Linked DNA regions of Homo sapiens. The protein of the gene in region 2 interacts with the protein of the main gene of each other region in a pairwise test. Each region holds a gene or a part of one and is shown on either strand. Other genes may lie near its edges.

The links. The genes of interacting proteins can lie anywhere in the genome.
Region 1: the proteins of ZMYM2 (region 2) and FOXP4 come close enough for resonance energy transfer, tested with the Homo sapiens proteins (one study listed by BioGRID).
Region 3: the proteins of ZMYM2 (region 2) and FOXP2 come close enough for resonance energy transfer, tested with the Homo sapiens proteins (one study listed by BioGRID).

What each region holds. Positions count from the first base shown.
Region 1 is NC_000006.12:41,594,712-41,598,380, reverse strand, and holds part of FOXP4 (forkhead box protein P4), read right to left. Parts: intron 3,512-3,669; coding exon 3,390-3,511; intron 1,206-3,389; coding exon 1,139-1,205; intron 601-1,138; coding exon 431-600; intron 1-430. UniProt on the Homo sapiens protein: Transcriptional repressor that represses lung-specific expression.
Region 2 is NC_000013.11:20,063,214-20,066,882, reverse strand, and holds part of ZMYM2 (zinc finger MYM-type protein 2), read right to left. Parts: intron 2,433-3,669; coding exon 2,338-2,432; intron 33-2,337; coding exon 1-32. UniProt on the Homo sapiens protein: Involved in the negative regulation of transcription.
Region 3 is NC_000007.14:114,690,646-114,694,265, reverse strand, and holds the end of FOXP2 (forkhead box protein P2), read right to left. Parts: 3' UTR 501-3,620; downstream 1-500. UniProt on the Homo sapiens protein: Transcriptional repressor that may play a role in the specification and differentiation of lung epithelium. May also play a role in developing neural, gastrointestinal and cardiovascular tissues.

The DNA of each region.
Region 1 (3,669 bases), on a different chromosome or scaffold from region 2:
GCTGGGCATGGTGGCAGGCACCTATAATTCCAGCTACTTGGGAGGCTGAGGCAGGAGAATCACTTGAACCCAGGAGGCAGAGGTTGCAGTGAGCCAAGATCTTGCCATTACACTCCAGCCTGGGTGACAGAGCGAGACTCCGTCTTAAAAAAAAAAAAAAAAAAGAGAAGAGAGGAGGAGGAAAAATAAGAAAGGGGGAAAATGGGGAGGAGAAGGTGGGAAGGTGGGGAGGTGGGGAGAGGGGATAAGAACAGGCAGGTGGGACAAGGGAGGGCTGAGAGGGCTGAGGGAAGGAAGAGAGAAGCCACTTGTCCTGGGGAGAGGCGTGGTGGGGGTGGGATGGGGAACCCCACCCAGGGTGGGGGATGACGCCTCCTCCCTGGTGGTTGAGGGGTGCTGGGGTGGGTGGGGGTCCGTGCTGTGTGCTCACCTGTACTGGGGCGGGGAGAGGCGAGGAGGGCTGCTGCTGCCGTTGCTGGGCAGCGGCTCCACGGGGGCACCCACGTCATCGTGGCTGAGGGGCAGCAGGCTGCTGGCGGAGCCAGGGTTCAGCATGCCAGGGCTGTTGAGGAGGGGGAAGCTGCTCTCGGCCAGGGCGGCCTGCAGGGGCACAGGGTTGGGCCTCGTCAGTGGCTCCACAGGATGGGGCACACTCAGTCAAGTGCTGTGCCTTCCCCGCCCACTAGAGAGCTGCCTGTGTGTCTGCCTACTGGCCCCACGGGCGGATCTGTCTGGGCAACCCCCAAGCCCCAACTCAGCCTTTGAATGTAGCACCCCTCCCCCATGGCTGGAACTCTGACCCCCCGACCTCCTACCTCCTAGCTTTCCTGGAACCTGGGCCTGGCTTATCCCCTCTCCCAGGGAACAGAGAACCCCCAGACTGACAAACCAGGAAAGGGGATGCTATAGGTATGCCATCCTCCCAGCTGCCTGCCTTGTCTGAACCCAGCCTTGAAAGCAGAGGTGGAGGCTGGCCCCGAGTTGGGGTGGGGCAGAGAGGTGGGGTCTCGGAGAGTTTGGGTCTTCACCCTCCTTCCCTCCTCTGGTGAGTCCTCTGCAGGGGAGGATGGGGGTCTCTTGTATGAGAAAGCAAGGGGGCGGGAGGTAGAGGTGAGTGGGTGGGCTCTGGGCAGGTCACCTGGTAGCTGGCATTAAGTGCTCCATAGCTGAGGCCAGAGATCATGTTCTTCACCAGGGTGGGGCTCCTGGAGGACAGAGAAGGCCATCTTTGGCTCACTCATTCACTTAGCTCTTCATTCGCATCTCTTTACTCTCACTAAGTAACGGCCTGTGCTGGGAATGGGTCCCATTCCCTATTCCGGGAGGCCAGGGCGGATCAGCCGCTGTCTTGGAGCTGTGTGTGTACTTGGTCTGATTCGGTCTTCACGCTCAACTGGCCCTGCAGGAGCAGCCCCTTCACAGGTGGGTGCGATGGGCTTGGTTCAGGGACCTGTCCAGGTCTCGGAGCTGGGAAGTGGGAACTGGCATCCCCCCAGTGTCTGCCTTCACAGCATGCTGCCCCCCCACCCGTTTTCTCTCCGGTCTAGATTTTCCAATGTTTGGCAAGGTCTAATCTATAGTCTCAGTAGTTACACACCTGGTCTGCCCACACTGTCTTGCCATCCTAGATTTTGGGACATGTCAGACATATGCTCAGCCTGTCCCACATGGAGGCTTCTGTATGGAAGCCTCCATACAGAAGGCTTCTCTGCACGGGAAGGTGTTCGGGAGTTGGGACAGGAAAAGCAGTGGCTGGGGGCTGTCCCTCTTCCAGTGATGACACCATCACAGAGCTCTCACAGAGCTTAAGGAAACAGCCAAAGGTCACCAAACTGGTGAGAAGCAGAGGTGCAAGCGCAGCCAGGCCTGGAGACTGGCCCCTAGGCATTCACCAGGGGATGGCTTCCCTCCATTCTCCAGGCTGCACACTGCCTGGGGTGCAAAGGCTCCTGCCTGGTAAGCAGGCATCTTTGAGGGGAGCAGACACCCCACACCTCAGAGACATCCATCTAACTTGCTCTCCTCTCCTTACCCAGGGGCTCTGGCCCAAGGGGCACAGCAAGCAGGTGGCTGGGGTGGGGCTGTTTGAGGTCGGGAGAAGGCCACTGCTGCTACGTGGAAGCCAAAGGGAGGTCCTGACCCTGTCCCAGGCTCCTCAGTTTCTGTTTAAACTGCCAGGTGGAGGCTAGGTGCGGTAGCTCACGCCTGTAATCCCAGCATTTTGGGAGGCCGATGCGGGCAGATCACCTGAGGTCAGGAGTTCGAGATCAGCCTGGTCAACAGGGTGAAACCCCGTCTCTACCAAAAGTAAAATAATTAGCTGGGTGTGGTGGTGGGCGCCTGTAATTTCAGCTTCTCGGGAGGCTAAGGCAGGAGAATCGCTTGAACCCACAAGGTGGAGGTTGCAGTGAGCCAAAATCGTGCCACTGCACTCCAGCCTGGGCAACAGAGCAAGACTCTGTCTCAAAAAAATAATAGGCCAGGTGCGCTGGTGCACGCCTATAATCCTAGCACTTTGGGAGGCCAAGGCAGGTGGATCACCTGAAGTTGGGAATTCGAGACCAGCCTGACCAACGTGGTGAAACCACATTTCTACTAAATACAAAAAAAATTAGCCGGGCGTGGTCGTGGGCACCTGTAATTCTAGCTACCCGAAAGGCTGGGGCAGGAGAATTGCTTGAACCCGGGAAGTGGAGGTTCCAGTGAGCTGAGATCGTGCCATTGCACTCTAGCCTGGGCAACAAGAACAAAACTCCTTCTCAAAAAAAATAAATGAATAAAATAATAAAATTAAAAAAATAATAAATAAATAAGTAAATAAATAAAATGCCAGGTGGTGAAGTGAAGCTGAGCACAAAAGACCAGGAGGGCAGAGACCTGGTCCTGGAACCAGCTCTGCCACAAATCTGCTCTGGGGCCTCCTGCCAGCCCCTGGCCCTCACTGGCTCTCCTCTGCCGTAAGATGAATTGGTGGGGTCGCGGGACCTCAGAGGTCTAGTCATCCTGATGAGCTGAGAGAGCGGGTGCCCTGGGGGTGGCAGCCCCTCACCCATGGCCCGTTGGCTGGCATCTGCCTGTGTGCCAGCTCTGGCCAGGGCTACTTGGGGCCCCTGTCTCTCTTTGCTACCAGGCCTCCTTCTTGGCCCCTTCCCTCAGTCAGAGTGAGGACAGAAGAGGACATAAATGTCTGCCTTCTGATTATCCATCACTTCCGGATTCCAGCCCCCTGTCCCCAAGCACTAGTCTCCTCTGCTCCTTTCTCCCCACACCCCTTCCCCCAGCCAGGAAGGATCTGGTGCACATGTGTACCCTGGAGAGGTAGGGGGTGGGGGTGAGTTGGCTCCTGCCCCCTGGGCAGGTACAGCCCATCCAGCTCTGGACCCACATACCCTGTCATCTTTGGCGGTCTCCGCTTCTGATACTCCCGCTCGTCCACAGTCCACACGGCACCCTTGACGTTCTCCACGCGGACGAAGCACTTGTGCAGGCTGAGGTTGTGGCGCACGGCGTTCTGTGGGTGCAGTGAAGAGGAGCTCAGAGGCGGCTTGCTTGGCCAAGCACAAACATGATAGTCCTCATCCCATCCCATGTCCCACGCAGCAGCGGCCCACCTTCCCCAGCTCAGGGATGAGCAGGGGAGGGGGGTGGGCTGGGAGGAGACCCAGCCAA
Region 2 (3,669 bases):
TGGTATCCTGATACAGCCTTTCTCTTGGCTCCCTATTAGTAAAAAACACCATAATAATATCTTTTTTAAAGCCTACATTATTTCATTACTTTATACAAGCCATCTCTCAACAAAGGCAAATTACAATTGACCCTTGAGCAACATGGGTTTGAACTGCAGGGGTCCACTTGGACACGTATGTTTTTCTGTGTGCCTGCCTCTCCAACCTCCTTCTACCTCTTCCAATCGTGCCACCTGAGACAGCAAGATCAACCTCTCTCCTCTTCCTCCTCAGCCTACTCAACTTGAAGACAATGAGGATGATCTATTTCCACCTAATGAATCGTAAATATATTTTCTCTCCCATATGATTCTCTTGATAACATTTTCTCTAGCTAACTTTATTATAAAAATACAGTATGTAGCATATAAAATATGTGTTAATCAACTGTTATCAGCAAGGCTTCCAGTCAACAGTAGGCTACTAGTAGTTAGCTTTTTAGGGAGTCAAAAGTAATACATGAATTTTTGACTGTGCAGGGGGGCTCAGTGAAGAGTAGGCTACTAGTACTTAACTTTTTAGGGAGTCAAAAGTTATACACAAATTTGTGACTGTGCAGGGGGGATCAGAGCCCAACCACTGCATTGTACAACGGTCATCTGTAATTACAAATATAGTTATCTGTTTAATCTGTCATAAAAATATAGTTATTTGTTTAATGTGTCATGAAATTAGAAAAGAAAAAATGAAATATAGGTATTTGCTTTGAACTGACTGGTATTCCTGAATCTGACAACAGTCAATTAATATTCCAGGAAATGTGATGTTTCTACATAAATCACTTTGTGCAACAAAATCATATTAAATTCTGTGGTGAGAGTCACCAATGATGAGAAAATAAATATAAGACAATAAACTAATAATCTAAATATTACTGTAACAGAAACTGAAGAACTTTTCAACAACTCCACCTTATAGAGAGTGACACTTAAGTACTTTTCACTTTTTTATTTTATTGTTTTATTTTTGTTTTTTTAAGACAGGGCCTTGCTCTGTCACCCATGCTAGAGTTTTGTAATCACGGTATCTCCCCTGCCAGGTAAGTATCCATGCTGGAGTTCTGTTTTGAGGAGAGGTCTTGCTCTGTTGCCCAAGCTGGAGTGCAGTGGCACGATCATAGCTCACTGCAGCCTCGATCCTCCTCCTGGGTAGCTGGGACTGCAGGCACGTGCCACCATGCCTGGCTGGTTTTTATTTTTTAGTTTTTGTAGAGGTCTCACTATGTTGCCCAGGCTGGTCTCAAACTCTTGGGCTCCACCAATCTTCCCGCCTCAGCCTTCCTGAGTGCTGTAAGTGCTGGGATTACAGGTGCCACTGTGCCTGGCCCCCTTTTCACTTTCCTGATGGCACTGTTTGCAATGCAAAAGTTTTTAATTTTGATGTAGTCCAGTTTATTTATTTATTTTTCCTTTTCTTCCCTGTGCGTTTGGTATCTTACCTAAGAAACTGCCTAACATAAGGCCATTAAGATTTAGGCCTATGTTTTCTTCTAAGAGTTTTATATTGTTAGCTCTTACATTTAGGTCTATGGCTCATTTTGAGTTAATTGTTGTGTTTGGTGTCAAGCAGAAGTCCACCTTCATTCCACTCCAAGTATTCTCTCCCTTTTCCGGTTTTTTTTCTTTCTTTTGGGGACAATTTGTGAAAGCTATCTTTCTTAAGGTATTTTTAAAACCTGCTTTATGTTGGAAGTCAGAAACACAGAAAGTTGACAGAATATTATAACAATTACACTTGTTAATGCATGTAGATTTGGTCTACCTGAATGATCAAACTGTCCAGCATGTCTTTCTATGTGTGTTGGTATGCCTAAAAGAGACCAGAAATAATAAACTGTGTACTTCAACCCCACTGATCATCTCATCAGAAATAATCGTGGAAAAAACAGCTCCCTAGAAAACAGTCTAAATTTTTGTCAAATAATTGAACTTACTACTTTAGCAACTGTTTTCTATTTTGACCTTGTATCAATACAAGTTTAGTTGAGGTATCAACTAAATCTGAGATATTTTTATTACTTAGAAACAGTAATAAATTATTACTAGAAATAAATTATTACTACTATTATTACTAGAAATAGTAATAATTACTATTTCTATACAAATAGAAATAGTAATAAATAATAGTAATAAATAGCAGTAATATATTATTACTATATTCTATATAAATAGAAAATAAATTATTTTCCAACCTAGAAAACAAAATATGTTCCCATATTCTCAGGCACACTAAAAGAACACTGTATCCTTGTTTGCCTATAGAGAAATATTGTTATATAGGCTATTAAGTGAATGTACCTTTTTTTTAGATCGAGGTCTGGGCTGTTCCTCATATTCTTCGCCAAAAACAGGTGGTAATAAAAATTCATTTTCCATATCAAGCTCCTCAGCAGCTGACAACCAAATCAGAACTTTTATTTTAAATGAAATAGCACAGGGTTACATAAACACAGCCAACAAAGAACTAACCACAGGATGTAAACCAGCATTCATACATGGGGACAATCTAGGCTGGGCTGGGGAGTAAATGACTCATTGTACCTAACATGGTTTGTGAATTCTGACAAACACTGTTCAAACTCCTAAAAACATATATAAAATGAATATCAACATAAAATTTTCATGAAAATGTATGATACCAGAAAAATTATTATAGTCTGAAATCCAATTACAAGATCTAAATGGTCTTGGTACAAATCTGATTCAATCTATTAAATGTTTTTTCCAAAAACTAATGTTTTACATTCTACTCAGTGTGCTCATTAGCCATCCATGGATTAAGAAAATAATGAAAAATGGGGCACACTTATTTTACAAAAGACCTGAAAATAATTTTTCCTTTGAAGGTGAACTTAATTTTCAAAGGATCTTAAAAAAAAGCTAACTATATATATTATATATATAAAAACTATATAATATATATAAAATATATATTATATATAAAATTATATTTATATTATATATTGTATATATTTATATATTATATACATCATGATGTATATAATATATAAAATTATATTTATGTATTATATATATTATATATTTTTTATATATATATATTTTTTGAGACAGAGTTTTGCTCTTGTTGCCTAGGTTGGAGTGCAATGGTGCAGTCTTGGCTCACTGCAACCTCCGCCTCCTGAGTTCAAGCAATTCTGCCTCAGCCTCCCCAGTAGCTGGGATTACAGGCACTCACCACCACGCCCAGCTAATTTTTGTATTTTCAGTAGAGACGGGGTTTCACGACGTTGGCCAGGCTGGTCTCAAACTCCTGACCTCAGGTGATCCACCCACCTCGGCCTCCCAAAGTGCTGGGATTACAGGCATAAGCCACCGCACCCAGATGCTAACAACATTTTTAAATTAAAAAGGACACAAACACTTCTTTAAACTTTCTATAATGAATTACTTCTAGAATTTTTTTTTTTTTTTTTTTTTTTAAAGACAGGGTCTCACTCTGCTGCCCAAGCTGGAGTGCAGTAGCACAATCTCGGCTCACTGCAACCTCTACCTCCTGGGCTCAAGCAATCCTCCTGCCTCAGCCTCCCGAGTAGCTGGGATTACAGGCATGCACCACCACGCCTGGCTAATTTTTATATTTTTAGTAGAGACAGTGTTTCACCACATTGC
Region 3 (3,620 bases), on a different chromosome or scaffold from region 2:
CTTGCCTGTTTTTTTCCACTAATATGGGTCTGGAACAGATCCCTAATATCCTAAAAAGCATTTTCTTGGAAGCTACTTACCTATCTCTGACACATTCCCCTAAACCATGGCTGGATGCTGTGGGTGTGACTGATATTCAGAGGCAAAACAAAAAAAGACAATAAAGCAAAAAAGTCATAAAGTTAAAAAGAGTAATCATGTTTTCCCCTGGCATTTTTTAATGTTCAGAATTTATAATGTCAAATTGTATCAGAATAAAAACACGAAAACATGAGATAAGTGTGTGGGGAAGCAATTTGGAACCTGAAGACAGTTTTTAATGGAATGCATTTGACAAGCAGCCTCCATCTTTACATTTGAGTATGGTCTGGTTTATGAATCCCAAATCCCTAAGAAAATAATTTTAAACAAATTGTGGGACATGTGTATACAAATTTATGACTTGGCTCTGGCATGGAAGAATGGTCTCTCCGAAAGAATAAAATCCTATTGGTTATAAATGGGTCAAAAAGAATTAGATTTTTTTATTTATACTTCAGAAATGTAATCAAGTGAATGAAATGGTTTCATATACATTTTTACATCCAACAGCAGTGACACACTGTTCATACATTAATTCTATAGTAAAATGTACATCCTTCTTTTTTGCTAAGTAAGATATGCCAAGTGTTCATGGACAAAAAAACCTTTCGTTGCAACCTGAACTAGTGAAATAACAAGGGTAAGCCATGTTCCTTTCAATAGCTTTATAGACTTAATAAAGCTATTGTCCAAATGTGTGTTAATACTGGCATGTGTAAGATGAAGTCTCAAAATTCTCAAAAATGTAAATGTCCAACTTGAAAACTTTACAAAATATCATATTGGATTTTGCGACTGAATCTGCCCAGGGACATTAAAGTCCAGGATGGTTTATGTAAGTGTACTTCTGTAGCTCTATTCCTAGCTGACTATTCTTCGATTCCCTAATCACAAAGAAATGCATTCTTATGAAGTTAAGCAGCTGTAGACACAGAATGCTGATGACATTTTCTCCATATCTGAGTTATCTAAAGAAAACCCAGTTAGTGGTAATTCTACCAAATACTTGTAACATTCACATAAAATTTTAATTGATTTTCAAATAGTACAACTGTGCCACGAATCCAACCACATAGAATATAAGCCTTAAGCCCACTAGGTTTAAGCAATTGTGTCTTTGTAGACTAAAACTATGTAAAATAAAATCTGATAACTCCCTGGTGTTAGAGGTAGACAGTTTTCTTTCAAATCCTAGGTTTGGTCCTTTATTTTATTCAGCAGTGAAAGCCATGAATACAGAACGAATAACAGCTGTTACAATTCTCAACCATGACTTCTAACGTCAGAGAATTCAAAGTATGAACATAGTACACAGTAATGAAAAGTATCAAAAATTAGTTTACCTCAAAAAAGATAAATAAAACAGGTATATTCCACCAATACATAAACAGATGTTTGTGCTACAGTTTAAAATTTGCTGTATACAAAAGATCATAGTCCCCATAATCAGCTTATGATAGAAGCAAGAATACATGAGCCATTTAAATTGTCAGACATTATGCTTTATAAGGTATGCACAGAAGTTCAAGCAATAAATACATACATTAGTTCAAAGCCTTACAATAGCTACGCAAAGCAGATGCAGAAAAGCAGATTTGCTATTACTAGCAAGCAATGATATAAGAGTAAAAATTCATGAAATGCATTAAAGCAACATTTTTCTTAGAAAAAGTCTGGTCATTTATGGGTCCACCAACATTTTTACATAATATGCACAATTATCAAAATACAGACCAAGCATTTCAGGAAACTCCAAAAAACCTAAAATCTATTTTCAAAGCAATTGCAGTTTTGGAGGTTTTTCTGGTATAATGTGCAAGCAGCTATTTTTTAAAATTGTATTCATATAAAACCCATGCAAAACTCTACAGGTATATGCATTCTGTGGCTGAGACTTCCTTTCAAAAGTTTTCTAACTGAGGTATGCATACTTTAGCATTGTAGTCTTAGGCCACCCTTCTGATGGTACAACTCTCGCAGTTACTTCCAGTCCCTCAAAGCCTTTTGAACATGCACCTGAAAGACCCATTTTTCCTTTCAGATAATCCTTACAGTAGGATCCTAGATGACTGAAAACCATCTTTCACCATACCCATCTTTCTTTTAATACCATATTGTAAACTTCCGGTTCGTTGATCATGACCCAAAGACAAACATAATGAAAAGTAGCAGTTACTGTGACGTTCTCACGTTTCATGCAATCTGCCATAATTGTTCTAATGTTTTTCTTTTTTTTTTTTTCTTTTTTTTTTTTTGCAGAGGTAGAAGCTTTCAGAAAGCCTTTTGGGTAAGTGGGAAAACCCTTTTGAAAGCCGTTATGTCCTTTTATTTGGTGTGATAGATGACTGGGTATCTCTCTAACTCTATTTGCTGACTTCAGCAAAGAATCAATGATGAGCTTAGTTTGCAAGAACCGGTTCCATCACATGGAACGGGAACGTATGTTAAGCTCTAGCAGCCACCTTCTGTCAAAACTGTTTGTAAAGCAATAACCATAATCAGGTTATGAGGTCCCTTGGTTGGGGGAAAAAGTATTATCAAGACTTGGCACAGCACATGAAAAGCAACATGTTAAGTTTCTAGGTTTTAAGCAAACATCTGACTATGCTATTTTCAACTACATCATAACTCATTATCATAGTTTTGGGGTTTGGAATTGTCAAGAAAACCAGCATTCCAACAATTTGGCCTGTGCAAGTCTTTGAAGGGAGTGTATTGTTAGTGTTAATATCCCGTATAAGCAGAGGCAGAATTATATGTAACTTTGGTTTGACTGAAAATAAATACCATGGACTACAATTGCTATAATCTTTGCTTTCAGTGTAAAAACTCAGCTAGATCACTTTAAAATCAATATGAAATTAATTTTTGGCTTTACTAGACCTTTTATGTTTGGTTCCTACTTTTTGTTTTTTCATTATAACTTAAGACTATAAAAAAATAGTACACAACAAAGATTAAGACCATACAAGACATCTTCTAACAACATGTATTCACCACTGAAAATAACTGACTGAATGAGGGAAAACAAAAACACAAAGTACTATATATATAACAATATGCAATCTGCATTTGCATCAAGTACATAATCGTTTTGGTCAGTGATCCACATTTGTTGCTTTCTAGCATATCATAACTTCCACTGCGGATTTTGTCCTCACCTCTGTCTTTAATGAAAGCAAATCTTCATTGCATTTAGATGGACTTTTGGCCTCAGAAGATTACTCTGTGACTGAATTAACATTTTTTAGTTGTGGTTTTTGTCATATTTGTTTCTTTGTTTAGGGCTAAATGAAAAGATCCCAGAGGTCATCAGAAAACAGCAGGTAGTTCATGGAAAAGGTTCCTTTGTACTAATTGAAGTTACAGAAGGCTGACCAAAGCATGTGGCTGCTTCTGTCCTTGAGCTCTTGGCCATGGTTAGAGTTGGCTTTGGTTTGCAGCTGTAGCCTTTGACTGTGTTTGCAGGTAGACAAAGCTTTATCACAAGGAGGTAAAGAGTACAGTTGTAAGATCTATGCAGATATGCAAATGTTTCT